Homo sapiens: one gene and its partner. The protein of the gene in region 1 interacts with the protein of each later gene in a biochemical or structural test. Each region holds a gene or a part of one and is shown in the gene's direction. Other genes may lie near its edges.

The links. The genes of interacting proteins can lie anywhere in the genome.
Region 2: the proteins of HORMAD2 (region 1) and SYCP2 form a complex in vitro, tested with the Homo sapiens proteins (one study listed by BioGRID).

Annotation. Positions count from the first base shown.
Region 1 is NC_000022.11:30,118,447-30,125,481, forward strand, and holds part of HORMAD2 (HORMA domain-containing protein 2), read left to right. Parts: intron 1-309; exon of another isoform or gene 310-464; coding exon of another isoform or gene 465-472; intron 473-533; coding exon 534-601; intron 602-3,185; coding exon 3,186-3,343; intron 3,344-3,517; coding exon 3,518-3,768; intron 3,769-7,035.
Region 2 is NC_000020.11:59,867,625-59,874,659, reverse strand, and holds part of SYCP2 (synaptonemal complex protein 2), read left to right. Parts: intron 1-598; coding exon 599-804; intron 805-4,676; coding exon 4,677-4,862; intron 4,863-5,734; coding exon 5,735-5,825; intron 5,826-6,091; coding exon 6,092-6,247; intron 6,248-6,812; coding exon 6,813-6,949; intron 6,950-7,035. UniProt on the Homo sapiens protein: Major component of the axial/lateral elements of synaptonemal complexes (SCS) during meiotic prophase. Plays a role in the assembly of synaptonemal complexes.

The DNA of each region.
Region 1 (7,035 bases):
CCCTTCATGTACCTCTCTATCACAGCATCTGCTTCTTGTTCACAGCACTTACACTATCGGAATTAGCTTATTTCATTTGTTTACTTATTTACTGACTATTTCCCCTACTGGATTGTATGTATATTCCAGAAAAACAGGGACCTTTTCTGTCTTGTTCACCGCTGTGACTCCAGTGACTGGCACAAAGTAGACATTCAATACAATATTTGTTACATGAATGAATGGTTTCTCAACTGTTTCCACTGTTGTTTACCTAGTTTGGTTAGATATTTGACTCTGTGATTTTGTTTTTCCAGCTTTAAAATGGTAATAATAGTATCTTTCATCTAATTTATTTTTAGCATGGAGGAGAAAAACTAGGTTGTCTTTATATTTGGAAATATTACTCTTGAATAATGTGATACTGTGAAACAAACAGCTATATAGGAAGTACAGTAGATATACAGTGAAAATGTTCCTTACTTATGATCAGGTAAGATTCTGGATTTCTTTTCTAAATTCTTTTTTTTCTTTATTTCCTTTGGTTTTTGTAGAAGGTGACTGAGATGTACCAGTTCAAATTCAAATACACGAAAGAAGGAGCCACTATGGATTTTGACAGGTAGAATCTAACTGCTTAATGAACATGAGAAATAAATAGGATTGAGGTAAACATAAGCTTCTTGAGGCCAGAGAAAGGCCTTATACTTCTTTACACATTTCCCCACAAACCCTACAGAAAACCACTATTATAAAAAGGGGCTGCAACAATTGTTTACATTCCTGAAATCCATGGATTAAGCTGGTGGGAATAGAGAAAATGGCATGCAGCACAAAGGTAGAAATTATGTCAATAAGGTTGCCTACACGCTATTGATTGAATAACTCCATAAGGCTCTGTCTAGCCATTAATTCAAAGTTTCTCAACTGCTATGCCTAGATAGCGATCCTTTCCACCTCGATATAGCCAGCCTGTGCCTAGGGTAGATAATACCCTTGGACTATTTGCCCGTATGCACAAATATTCTCATTTGCTTACCCCAGTATGTCATATAAATATCATTTCCTTGTGTCCTTGTATGAAAAGATTAGAAAGCACTGCAGTTTCCTTATGAAGTCGAAAATTCCAAGTTTTAGGTTACTAATGGGTTAAATAGCAAACACAAGGACATTGAAGAGCAACGTTTATTTTTCTCCCAGTAGCTTTTGGATTCAGACCTGCCAGGGGGGATGGAGAGCTAAGTATTGCTGATGAGATGGCACAGTAGTGGAAGGTACAGATGATGGTGAAAAGCTCTGGATAGTAGAGGAATCCAAGTAAGGGGGATGGATGCCCTTGAAAGGAAAGACTGATGAGAGACATGGCCTAATTTTCAATTTTCCCTACTATTAGCTCTGGCTCATCATTTGCCATGAGCTTGAGGACTTTTCTCCAAGATTCACTCCCTTGATTATCCTTCCATTTGTAAAACCTACAGACAGCACTAGAATGTGAAGAGAAAATCAGTTCCAAAAATGAGAATTAAAATATTACCTTTTATTAGCTAACATTTGTATAATACTTTACAGCTTATACAGCAGCACTTTTCATACACGTTTTCTCACATAAAAAGTTACCTTTACTCTCCAAAACTCAAAAATATACACTGATGGCCAGATTAAACTCTTTTGTTCTGAAGGCACATATGCCAAGAGGTAAGCTGTAAAACAAAAATGGCCAAATCTTTCACATGCTAAGGAGAGAAGGTGATGCATATTATTAATTTCCTAGAGAAGAAATATAGGCATTTGTTTAAATGGGAGTCCTGAATATGATTTTACTGATGTGTCCTGGAGGCTCCCATGAGCTACATATCTATAGCCCTTCATTCTGGTTACCTACATTTGAATTGGTTAAATCCTGGTTGGCAGAATTTTAAGTTGTTCAAAATTGGAAAAGGAGCTAATGTATTCACTTAATAAATGTTTGCTTCATGAATTCACACTGTCTCCAAAGATCAGTTAGGGAAAAATCCAACATTTCAATTACTTAGGGTTATTTTTCATATTAAGAGCTAACTATGTGCACAGCCATGTGTAAATATATTATAGTCATGGTCCCTCCTGGAAACTACTCAAATGTGAGACTAATTGTGGAAGGAAACTTTGGAGATAAATGAACAAAGTTTAGAATTGGAAGGTAATTTAGTCCAAATTGTTCATTCATTCATTAATTCAACAAATGTTGATTGAATAGCTGGGCACCAAACTCTGTACTGTGGAGATGAAAGATATAGCCACTCACAGTCTAGAGAAGGACAAATAGTTATCCTGAGGATGAGATGAGGGTATTATCAGAGAAGACTTCTTTGAAGAGTCTGCGCATGAGCTAGGTATTAGAGGATAAATTTAGGACAGTCAGGAAGAAAAGTGGAAAAGCACAGTACAAGCAAAGTGAACAGCATATGCAAATACTTTGAGTGAGAGGAAACTGGGCAATAGCTGCAGATGAGGATGGAGGTGAGGATATGACGGGTTGTGAAAGGAATTGTATACACACTGTCTTTGAATTTGATTGAAAACTGATGGATATAATAGAAGAATTCTAAGTAAGAAGGTGACATGAACAGATTTTCCTATTAGTAATATTATTTCAGCGGTGATATGGAGAATATTTTGTAGTGTGGACAAGAAGGAAAGCAGGAAAAATAGTTAGATAGCCACTGTAGTAATCAATGCAAGAGTGAGGAAGGGATACTTTTGCGAGATAATCAGACGGTAGAAAGTCCCAGAGCTGGTGATTGATTTTATGCTTGAGAGTTGTAGAAATGTCTTTACGCTTATCTCACAAATGAGCTAACTGACCTAGAGTGTGTCTAAATGACTTGACCAAGGTCATTCAGCTAGTTATCAGCAGAGCTGATATTAGATGCCAGGTCACCTAATTCCAAATTCGTTGTTCTTACTGTTGTGGTATATGATTTTTTTCAAATCAAATTTTTAAAAAGATCGTATTTTAAATGCTTTTAGGGAATTTGCTACTTAAGAAATTCTTTGTATATACATTGCAAAAAGTACCATCGCTCCCCTAATTTACATTCTAAAAAAGTCTCAAAATATACTAATGTTTAATTTATATTTACTCACATAGTCAAAAGTTTTGTTCCTTTTGGGATAGATTGCCACTATTGTATATGATCAAAAAGTATGCTTTTTTTTCTGTGTAGTCATAGCAGCAGTACAAGCTTTGAAAGTGGAACAAACAATGAAGATATTAAGAAAGCCAGTGTTCTACTGATCCGTAAATTGTATATACTGATGCAGGACCTTGAGCCACTTCCTAATAATGTTGTACTTACTATGAAACTCCACTACTATAATGCAGGTAGGTAGAGAACTTTAGGCAAATTCCTCCTTAAGTGCTGAGCTAATATTTTCTATAAGTAAAAGGATTTTGCAGGCATCTGAAAGAGAAGTCTGTTGCTACACATGAAAGATTAATCGGATTTGTTGTATTGAAACTCAGTTTTCATGGCTTTTTGCCCTTTTCATTTCGCAGTGACCCCACATGATTACCAACCCCTCGGTTTTAAAGAAGGGGTAAATTCACACTTCCTGCTGTTTGACAAGGAGCCTATCAACGTGCAAGTGGGATTTGTCTCCACTGGCTTTCATAGCATGAAAGTAAAAGTCATGACAGAGGCTACAAAAGTGATTGATTTGGAGAACAATCTGTTTCGGGAGAACAGCACTACTGAGATCGCCCATCAGGGTCTAGACTGTGATGAGGAAGAAGAATGCAATGACCATGTAAGGCAAAGCTTTAGAGATTTTCTATCGTGTCAGTTAAACACAATTGATATTTTTCAGTTTCTACCCAGGGCATGCACGTGGAGTGTGCCAGCTATAAAAACTGAAACAAAACTAGTCTCTGACATCAAGGAGTTTTTAATCTAAAAAAGTTTAATCTTCTAAAAGGAAATATACTTTATCAGATGAAATTGTCCATAACTAGGAGGAAAAAGATTTTCTAATATATTTATTTTATTAAAGATATCATAAATTTAGAAAATTTGAGGTTTTCTTTCCTTTATTTGTAAATGACATAATTTTAGGGTTGAAAAATATTCTAGGTATTTATTCATACTCATTGGAAGTATAAATCAGTTCTTGATACTGAGATAATTGGATGGGAGGAGTTGGGGAAGATAAATTTTATGGATAAACCCGAGTCAGCGTGAAAACAAATAATAGTTAACTTCTGGTTATGTGGAGGAAGACAAGCTTTGGGGCTAACTCACTGGGGAAAGTCAGGGGGTTGGTGGGGTTGGAGCTAGTGGAGCCAAACAGTCAGGTCTCTGATCCCTTTATCCTCCCATTTCCACCAATAGAGACTTGGAGTTAGATTCTTGCTAGGGTCCCATTATGCCCTAGGTAACTCCACACCCTTAACTGGTGGTTGTCTGGATAATAATGTTAACTGTATGACAACATTGTGTTAAAAGGGTTCTGAGTTAGACAAAAAATTTTCAGTAGGAAGGGATGCTATAAGATCTTTTCAGGAGATATTTTAAGATTAGAATGATAACTTGTTTGCTTAAGATAATTTGAGTCTTATTTAAAGATAGGTGACTGTACTAGGTAACTTCTGAAGGTTCCTTCTAGTTCTTTAACTCTGTATTATGTTTAATACATTGAAAAGAGGTTCTAGTTGTTCTAGTTTTAATTCAATTAATGTAAATAATATAACCAAACAAGTAACAGATTGTTTTTAAATTTTTAGTGCTTTCTCGATGTTAGACATAAAAATGACTTTGGATTTTGGTGCAATTTTCCTCTTCCAATTTCACCCAAGGAAGATATAGCTAACATAGAAAGGGGAAAAAAAATGAAGGTTAAGAAAAGAATGTTTCAGCTAGTTTTTTTTGTTGTTGTTCTTGTTGTTTTTGAGACAGGGTCTCGCTCTGTTGCCCAGGCTGAAGTACAGTGGTGCAACCATGACTCACTGGTGCCTCAGCTTGCCAAGGAATCCTCCTACCTCAGCCTCTCGAGTAGCTGGGACTATAGGCACATGCCACCACACCTGGCTAATTTTTTATTTTTTAATTTTTTGTAGAGACAAGGGTCTCACTGTTACCAGGGCTGGTCTTAAACTCCTGGGCTCAAGCAATCCTTTCACTTTGACCTCCCAAAGTGCTGGGATTACAGGTATGAGACACCACACTGGGCCTCAGCTAGGTATTTATTTATTTATTTATTTATTTATTTATTTATTTAGGGAAAGAGTCTTGCTCTGTTGTCCAGGCTTGAGTGCTGGAGTGCAGTAGTTGATCACAGCTCACTGCAGCCTTGACCTTCTGGGCCCAAGTAATCCTTTCAGCTCAGCCTCCAGTGTAGCTGAAACCATAGGTGTGCGCCACCACACCCAGCTTATTTTTTATTTTTTTTAGAGACAGGGTCTCCCTATGTTGTCCAGGCTGATCTTGAACTCCTGGGCTCCAGTGATCCTCCTGCCTTGGCCTCTCAAAGTGCTAGGATTACACCACACCTGGTTAGATTTTTACCTTTTAATTAAGAATTTCTTTCTTTTTTTTTTTTAATCAAATGAAAGCAGGACAACCTAAGAACGCATAGTTCAACTAATAGATTAAATAAGAAATGTGATAATCCTTCTCAAGCATACATTTAGTTGAAACTATATGTATTATATGGACTTTGTGGTAAACTTAGTTGATTGAAGTTTCTCTCTCAGCCAGCCAAACATATGAGAGAATTTAGTAAGTCTAGTAAAGTGGTTACTGTCACTTTCCCACTAAGGATTCCTTTTTGTTTTCCTTCATGGAATACATGGAACACACACACACACACACACACACACACACACACACATACATACATGTGTATACATATGTAGAATCTTTATTTCTTTTAAAAATTTTATTTTGAGATATACATATAATAGACTACATAAAAATATGTACAGTTTAAAGAATAATGAGAACATCCATATGTCCTCCATTTAGGCTAAGATGTAGAACATTGCTACTCCCTTAGAAGCCACCACGTGTCCCTTCCTCATTGCACGCCCTCTGAAGGTAACCACTCTCCTGACCTTCATGATAACCTTTCCTTGCTCTTCTTTATAGTTTTGCCATGGATGAGTACATCTACTCGTTTTAAATTTGTATATCAAAGTAATCATACTCTGAGTATTCTCCTTTAATTTTCTTTTGCTTGAACTTCAAAGTTGAGATTTAGCCATTGTGTTATTGTTCTTTCATTTTCACTGCTGTAGAGTTTTCTACTCTTGATAGACATTCTTTTTAATTGCTATAAACATTCATGTACATACCTCCTGGTACACCTGTCAAAGAGTGTCTCTTGGGAATATATGAAACAGTTCTAGGCTTGTGTATTTTCAACTATATTAGGTAAAGCAAAACTGTTTTCCAAAGTGGTCGTACCAACTTACTCGCTACCCCCAGTGAAGGAGAGTACCCTACATTCTTGCCAACACTTATTGTCAGGGTTTATGTTTCCTGCCAGTCTGCTAGATATGAAATGGTAATGCCTCATGATGTTAATTTGAATTTCTCTGATTATTTGTGTGTTTGTGCATCTTTTCTTTGGCCATCCTATTTTGCTCATATTAAATAGCTGTTCATGTCTTTCATGCATTTGTCTCTCAGGTTATTTATCTTTTCCTCAATGGTTTAAAAAATATGTGCTTAGTAATAATTCTTTTTCACTCATTTATGTTGCAATATTTTTTTCATGTTTGTGGCTCATCTTTTCACTTTCTTTTTCTTTTCTTTTTTTTTTTTTTTTTTTTTTTTTTGAGACAGAGTTTCCTCTTGTTGCCCAGCAGGCCTGAGTGCAATGGCACAATCTCAGCTCACGGTAACCTTCTTTCTCCTGGGTTCAAGTGATTCTCCCGCCTCAGCCTCCTGAGTAGCTGGGATTACAGGCATGTGCCACCACACCCAGCTAATTTTGTATTTTTAGTAGAGACAGGGTTTCTCCATGTTGGTCAGGGTGGTCTTGAACTCCCGACCTCAGGTGATCCGTCCGCCTCAG
Region 2 (7,035 bases), on another chromosome or scaffold:
TAAAATACAAGACTTAAATCAGTTAGTATACTTCTGCTTCCTCTAAAGTAGCTATTGTGTTCTCAGTACTAAGGACCACTATGAAATTTCACATAAGCGCATACTCAGGAGATAGATGTACATGCCCTGATTCGATCTGAAAATTGTCTGAGGATTTATTTATATTAAGATTTATTCCAGCAGTAAATTTTCTAATTTTTATGTGAAAGATGTAGAGCAGATGATTTCTCAAGCCTTTTTCAATCATAAAATTTTGTGATGTGTATATATAACACAATCAGCTATGATGTCAGAATACTCAAGATAATACTTAGGTTGATCCTTATATTTCAGGTCATACTGTAGATATTTTTGTTGGAAAATGTTTTGAAAGTTCTTGTGGTTACAAGTACATTTTAAATTCAGCCATTTTGTTTTTCAGTCTTACAAATATTTTAAATATAACTTGGTCTTAATATTTTTAAAGCTATCCTTTTTTATAGCTAAGATTTGAAGATCTGACAAATTCTTAGAATTTAAATTAATCGTGCTATTTCTAAAGCAGACATCAATGATAACGCTTGCCATCTATTTTCTTTTTTATTTTGATGCAATATAGGTATAGAGAAAATAACAGAAAAGGATTTTACTCAGGATTATGACTGCATAACAAAATCTATATCACCTTATCCAAAAACTTCATCACTTGAATCCTTAAATAGTAACAGTGGAGTTGGAGGTACAATAAAGTCACCCAAAAACAATGAGAAAAACTTCCTGTGTGCAAGTGAAAGTTGTTCACCAATTCCACGACCACTGTTTTTGGTGAGAATGTATATATATTTTTCTCTTTATCAGATATATCTGAAGGTAGTAAGTTATTTTCCCTATCATCTTAATCAGATACACATTGCTTGTCTATTTAAGGTTTTGGGTTTGGTCTAGGGTCTTGGGGGAGAGGGACATAATGACAAGAGAGAGATACTTGCCAGTCTTGATGAACCTAACAGACAAATAAATGTATAGCTATACAGGAGGAAGAATGTGGTAGCAGGAGAGTACAGTAGTTTCTCATTATTTGTGGTTTCACTTTTTGAGGTTTCAGTTACCTACAGTCAACTGTGGTCTGATAATATTAAATAAGAAATTGCAGAAATAAACAATTCATATGTTTTACATTGTGTGTAATTCTGAATAGTGTGATGAAATATTGAGCCATCCACTCTGTCCCTCCTGGGACGTGAATCAACCCTTTGTCCAGAGTATCCATGCTGCTGTATACCCTACCTGCCTGTTAGTCACATAGTAGCCATCTTGGTTATCAGATCAACTGTAGAGGTATTGCAGTGCTTGTGTTAAAGTAACCCTTATTTTACTTAACAATACCGCCAAAGGGCAAGAGTATTGATGCTGACAATTCAGATAGGCCAAAGAGAAGCCATAAAGTTTTCCTTTAAGTGAAATGGTGAATATTCTGTGCTTAATAAGGAACCAAAAATAAGGTATGTGGAAGTTGCTAAGATCTATGGTAAGAATGAATCATCTTTCCATGAAATTAGGAAAAAGAAATCTGTGCATAGTATAATAGGGTGAGGTACTATCTGTGATTTCAGGAGGGTCTACTATATTTTAAGAAGAAATGATACATATAATGTGATACATAGATGAGGAAGAATGAAGAATTTCTTTTCAATATATATTTACTTTTTATATTCCTACCATTTACCTGTTAAACTTCCTTATAAACACCTAAACCAAATATTGTAATTACACTGTTTTCAACTAAATTATCAATTTACTTTGTCAACTTGTAATTTTTGTAACTAAAGTTTATTAAAGGCCATAGACTTTAAATTATGGTGAAATCTGAAAGAAGTACCTGCATTGCAGGAATAAGCCTATTCAGATCTAGAAAATGTGTGTAGTTCTAATGTGTAGAACAATTAGTAGTATCTCTTAGGAAGTGATCATTCCTGTTACAAAACTCTTACCTGTACTCTGTACAGTAATCACCCCTTATTCTCAGGGAATACGTTCCAAGACCCCCCCAATAGATGCCTGAAATGGAGGATAGCACTGAATGCTATATATACTATCTTTTTTTCCTATACATACATACCTATGATTGTTTAATTTAAACATTAACTTATAAATATGCAATTTATAAATTATTACAATGACAAAACAACAACTATAACAATACACTACAGCATCACTACTCTTGCTTTTGAGGGGCATTATTTAGTAAAATAAGGGTTGCTTGAGCACTACGATATCTCCACAGTCAATCTGATAACTGAGATGGCTATTACTTGACTAACAGGCAGGTAGCATATACAGCATGGATATGCTGGACAAAGTGATGATTCATATCCCAGGCAGGACAACCCGATGGCCAGAGATTTCATGGCACCACACAGAATTGTGCACAATTTGAAACTTATAAATGATTTCTGGAATGTTCCATTTAATATTTTTGGGCCATGGTTGAGCATGAGTTATTGAAACCCTGGAAAGCAAAACTGCAGCTAAGAGGGACCATTGTGTGTCAGAAAGATAAAAGTAGAACTATGCTGTTTAAAGTAGAGGTAGGAGATCTAAACCCTAGATCTACCTAGCCTCCTTCACCTCCTTCTCCCAAATAATCCCCAAGGCATATTTTCAAAACTCTGAGTTTCTACAGACCACAATTTGAAACCCAGTTTCACACTAGTGAAATTCACACAAATTCTCCTGTGATCCTTTATCAATATAGTTGGCCCTCCATATCTGTGGGTTCCACATCTGTGGATTCAACCACAGACAACAATATATATTTTTAATTGTGTCTGTATTGAACATGTACAGACTTTTTTTTCTTGTCACCATTTCCTAAACAACACATATAACAACTATTTAAGAGTATTTACATTGTATTAGGTATCATAAGTAATCTAGAGATTACTTATGTATATGGGAGGATGTGTATAGGTTATATGCAAATACTGAACCATTTTATATCACAGATTTGAGCATCTTCTGATTTTGATATCCACAAGAGGTCCTAGAACCAATCCCTTTGTTTCTGTCATTCTTATTTTCCCCCGCATCCTTTAATCCCTTCAGTATGCCACCTTGCAAAATCTCCAAGCCTAGGTAATCCCCACCCACCATCTTTGATGCTACTCTGTGTTAGATGGAATTTTAACAGTTACATATTCATTGGCTGGACACTCATGAGACATTCCCCCATGCTGCCCCTTTACTGTCAACTCTTAATAAGGTGTTGGAAATTTGCTTTATATGGTAGTTGAACCTACTTACACTCTCAACACTGCTATGAGATAGTGCTCATTTCTCTACAGTTTTAACTAAGTAGATGTTATCAGTTGTTTCTGTTTTTGCCAGTCTGGTAAGCATAAAGTTGTGTCTTTAATTTGCATTTTCCTGACTCATTGCATCAATGAGTATTTTCACATGATTTTGGCCATTTTGTGAATTTCCTGTTTGTTTTCTTATTTTTAAATTGCATTGCTTGATTTTTCTTACAAATTTGTATGAGTTCTTAATATATTCTGGATATTCTTTATTCGTTGTATATAATGTAAACATTCTTTTCCTAGTATGTATATTTTCAGTTAATTACACAACTTCCCTATGACAAAAGATAGGACATAATCAAATTTACCAATCTTCTGGGTTGTTTAAGAAATCTTCCCCTAAGCTATTGTCATAAAAATATTTTCTTATTTTAGATTTGAGTCTAAATTTGACTCAAATTTTAGATTTGAGTCTCTCCAGGCTTTCTTTTTCATATGGATATCAAATTAGTGCGACATCAGGAGTGGAATAGTCTTAATTTAGTCATAGGCTGGGTGATCACATGGGCCTGGATTAGGCACCATTAGATTTTACTGTTTACTGGCCTGTTTATCTATCTCTGTGCTAATACCAGCATTGCTTTAATTGGGGTCATTTTACATTTATAGGGTGTTACATACCCCCTGCCCCACCATTCCTCAGAATTCCTTTGCCCTTTACTGATTCATATACATTTTAGAATTAGTTTGTCTAAGGGAAGAATTGCCATTTTTCAATATTGATGTTGATCTTTCTTATCTACACATGATTTCTCTCTCCACTTTTTTGTCTTATTTCCTGCAAAGTTGGGTGAAGTCTCCTACAAAGGAAATTATGCATCTTGTTAGATTAATTCTTAAGTATTTTATGGGTCTTCTTTTTGCTGTATTAAAAAAAAGACTTTTTTTAAAAATTACATTTTCTGAGTTTTAAAATTTTTATATAGAAAAACTATTGATTGTTTTATCTCCAACAACCTTGCTGAATTTTATCATGATTGTCTGCCTAGATTCTCTTGGCTTTTCTGTATAGACAGCCATATAAACTGTTACACATGAAGATTAGAACAGAAAATGCAAAAAATTCTTATTCGTGTTCTTGTTAAGGTGACTTTGACCTCTGGAGCATAGAAACTGTACTAGCAGGGATCCTTATCTACAGGTTTTGGTCATCAAAGTAATAATCCACTTGCCTAAGGATTTTTTATTTTTAGTTATGAATTGGAATTGAATTTTTGCAGTGAATTAGTAGTTTTGCAGTTTTGCTTTAATGTTTCTTATGTTCAACTCTTTTTGAAGTGGGGGGCTTTGAACAATTTTGTAACTTCTTATTGGGTTTTTGTATGTCTTCATTCATAGCCCAGACATACTCCAACTAAGAGTAATACTATTGTAAATAGAAAAAAAATAAGTTCTCTGGTACTTACACAAGAAACACAAAACAGTAACAGCTATTCAGATGTAAGCAGTTATAGTTCAGAAGAACGGTTTATGGAAATTGAATCTCCACATATCAATGAAAATTATATACAAAGCAAAAGAGAGGTAAGTGTGGGACTATAACTTATAAATTTTCCTTACACTAAGATGGTTCTTATAAGACTCAGATTACTGACCTTTAGTGGTAATTATAATATTTTAATGCTTTTCAACTGTTATTACCTGAAAATCTGATGTTTAAAGTATATAGAATGGCTTGATCATAGAAAAATATTTTTTGATAGAAGAAAGTTGAAACTTTTAAAATGAGAGTAGTAAGGTCTTAAATAGTGAGGATACCACTGCTGAACCCCGGATTGCATATTTACAATAGGCACTTTCTGGTTTCGTGAATATATAGGTATTTGGTTGAACTTCCTGCCAGCATAAAAGCCCATCCATCCATCAATAAAAATATTTTAGTAACCTGTAAAATATAGAAAATCAAGACAGAATTTTACAACTTGGAGAGGGCTGCGATTTGAGCTAGACCTAAGTGGATGGGTAGGTATATGTAGATTAAGTGGAGAAAAATCAGTAACCTATGTAAAGGTTACTAAGTAAAACCTGTATATTCAAATAGTATAACATAAGGTTAGATGTGAAAGATGTGGTTTGAAAGACGAGTAGTTTAAACTTTAGTTTTCTGTGGCTCCTCATTTCCTGACTCAAAGAAATGGAAATCCTAATAAAGAAATGAAAAGCAGGAATAGAAAAAAAAGTAGCTCACATCACAGCTATTACAAGAAGATTGAGGTCAACTTAGAATCAAGGTTAACACATGGTAAATATTAGAGATGAAAAGGAAGGGATAGAAACAATCTGAGAAAGAATTGACAGCATTTAAAATTATTGGTTTTTGGGTTTGAGAAAGGTGATAAAATGTGAATTGAAATATATTTACGGAATTTTTTTCTAATTTCTAATACGTATTTTAGGAAAGTCATTTAGCATCTTCATTATCCAAGTCTAGTGAAGGAAGAGAGAAAACGTGGTTTGACATGCCCTGTGATGCTACTCATGTATCAGGTTTGTAGTCATAGTCTTGCTTTTTAAAAAATGATTACTGAAATGCTACGTGACATTTCAACTAAAGGAATTATGTATTTTAAGTCATACCGTTATTCAACTTAATGTAAAAAGAAAATAAACTAGGTAGAATTGAATGCATAATTACCTAAAACATAATAAAAATACTTAGTGGAAACAAAGCCTTTTTAAAATAAAAGCAAGAAAATATGAGGTATTTTTAATGAAAATTGCAGCGCTTTTAACTTTCTTTAACTGTTCCTAAGGCCCCACCCAACATCTTAGTCGCAAAAGAATATATATAGAAGATAATCTAAGTAATTCCAATGAAGTAGAAATGGAAGAGAAAGGAGAAAGGAGAGCAAACTTGCTTCCCAAAAAACTGTGTAAAATTGAAGATGCAGATCATCATATCCACAAAAGTAGGTAGATCAGTAGCCTGTATCAAAATGCAGTTATTTGGAGGGTGGTTCTTATATTTTGAATGAGTCTATTTACAAAACAAATTTGTAAAGACAACTTTGGATATGTCCAAGATGGATGATGCTTTATTGCAAAGTTCACATTTATATGAATAATTGTTGTAGTAAGGGTCTTAGATGCCCATAGATCTCCCTCATCATTCTGTCACTTACTATCACATTTAGGTTAACTAGAGTATGAATTTACTGATGTGCTAGTACCTCACTAAATACCTAATAATAATGTGGAACTAGTTAAAAAGCAGTTAAAAATAATCCATAAATGTTCCAGCTTAAAGTAGTCATTTCTGCTGTAATAGCCATACCAAAAAGTTTGTTTTATAAATCAGAATAATCTGATTTTTAAATTAAAAAAAACATAAGGAACTCTTCTGCCTTTGATTTCATAATCCTTAGGTTACACATAGATTCGGAAAATAAGATAGATTTTGTTCTTAGCCTAATTACAAGGCTAAATTTAGAGTAATGCATATTTTAACTTCAGCAGATTGTTTTCATTTTTTAGTGTCTGAAAGTGTATCTTCATTATCAACAAATGACTTTTCTATTCCTTGGGAGACCTGGCAAAATGAATTTGCAGGGATAGAGATGACTTATGAGACTTACGAGAGGCTCAATTCAGAATTTAAGAGAAGGAATAATGTGAGTTATTCTTTAAATTATGATTTATACCCAATAATATAATAATATGCCACACTTTCTACTAGACCATTGGCTTGTTTGATCCT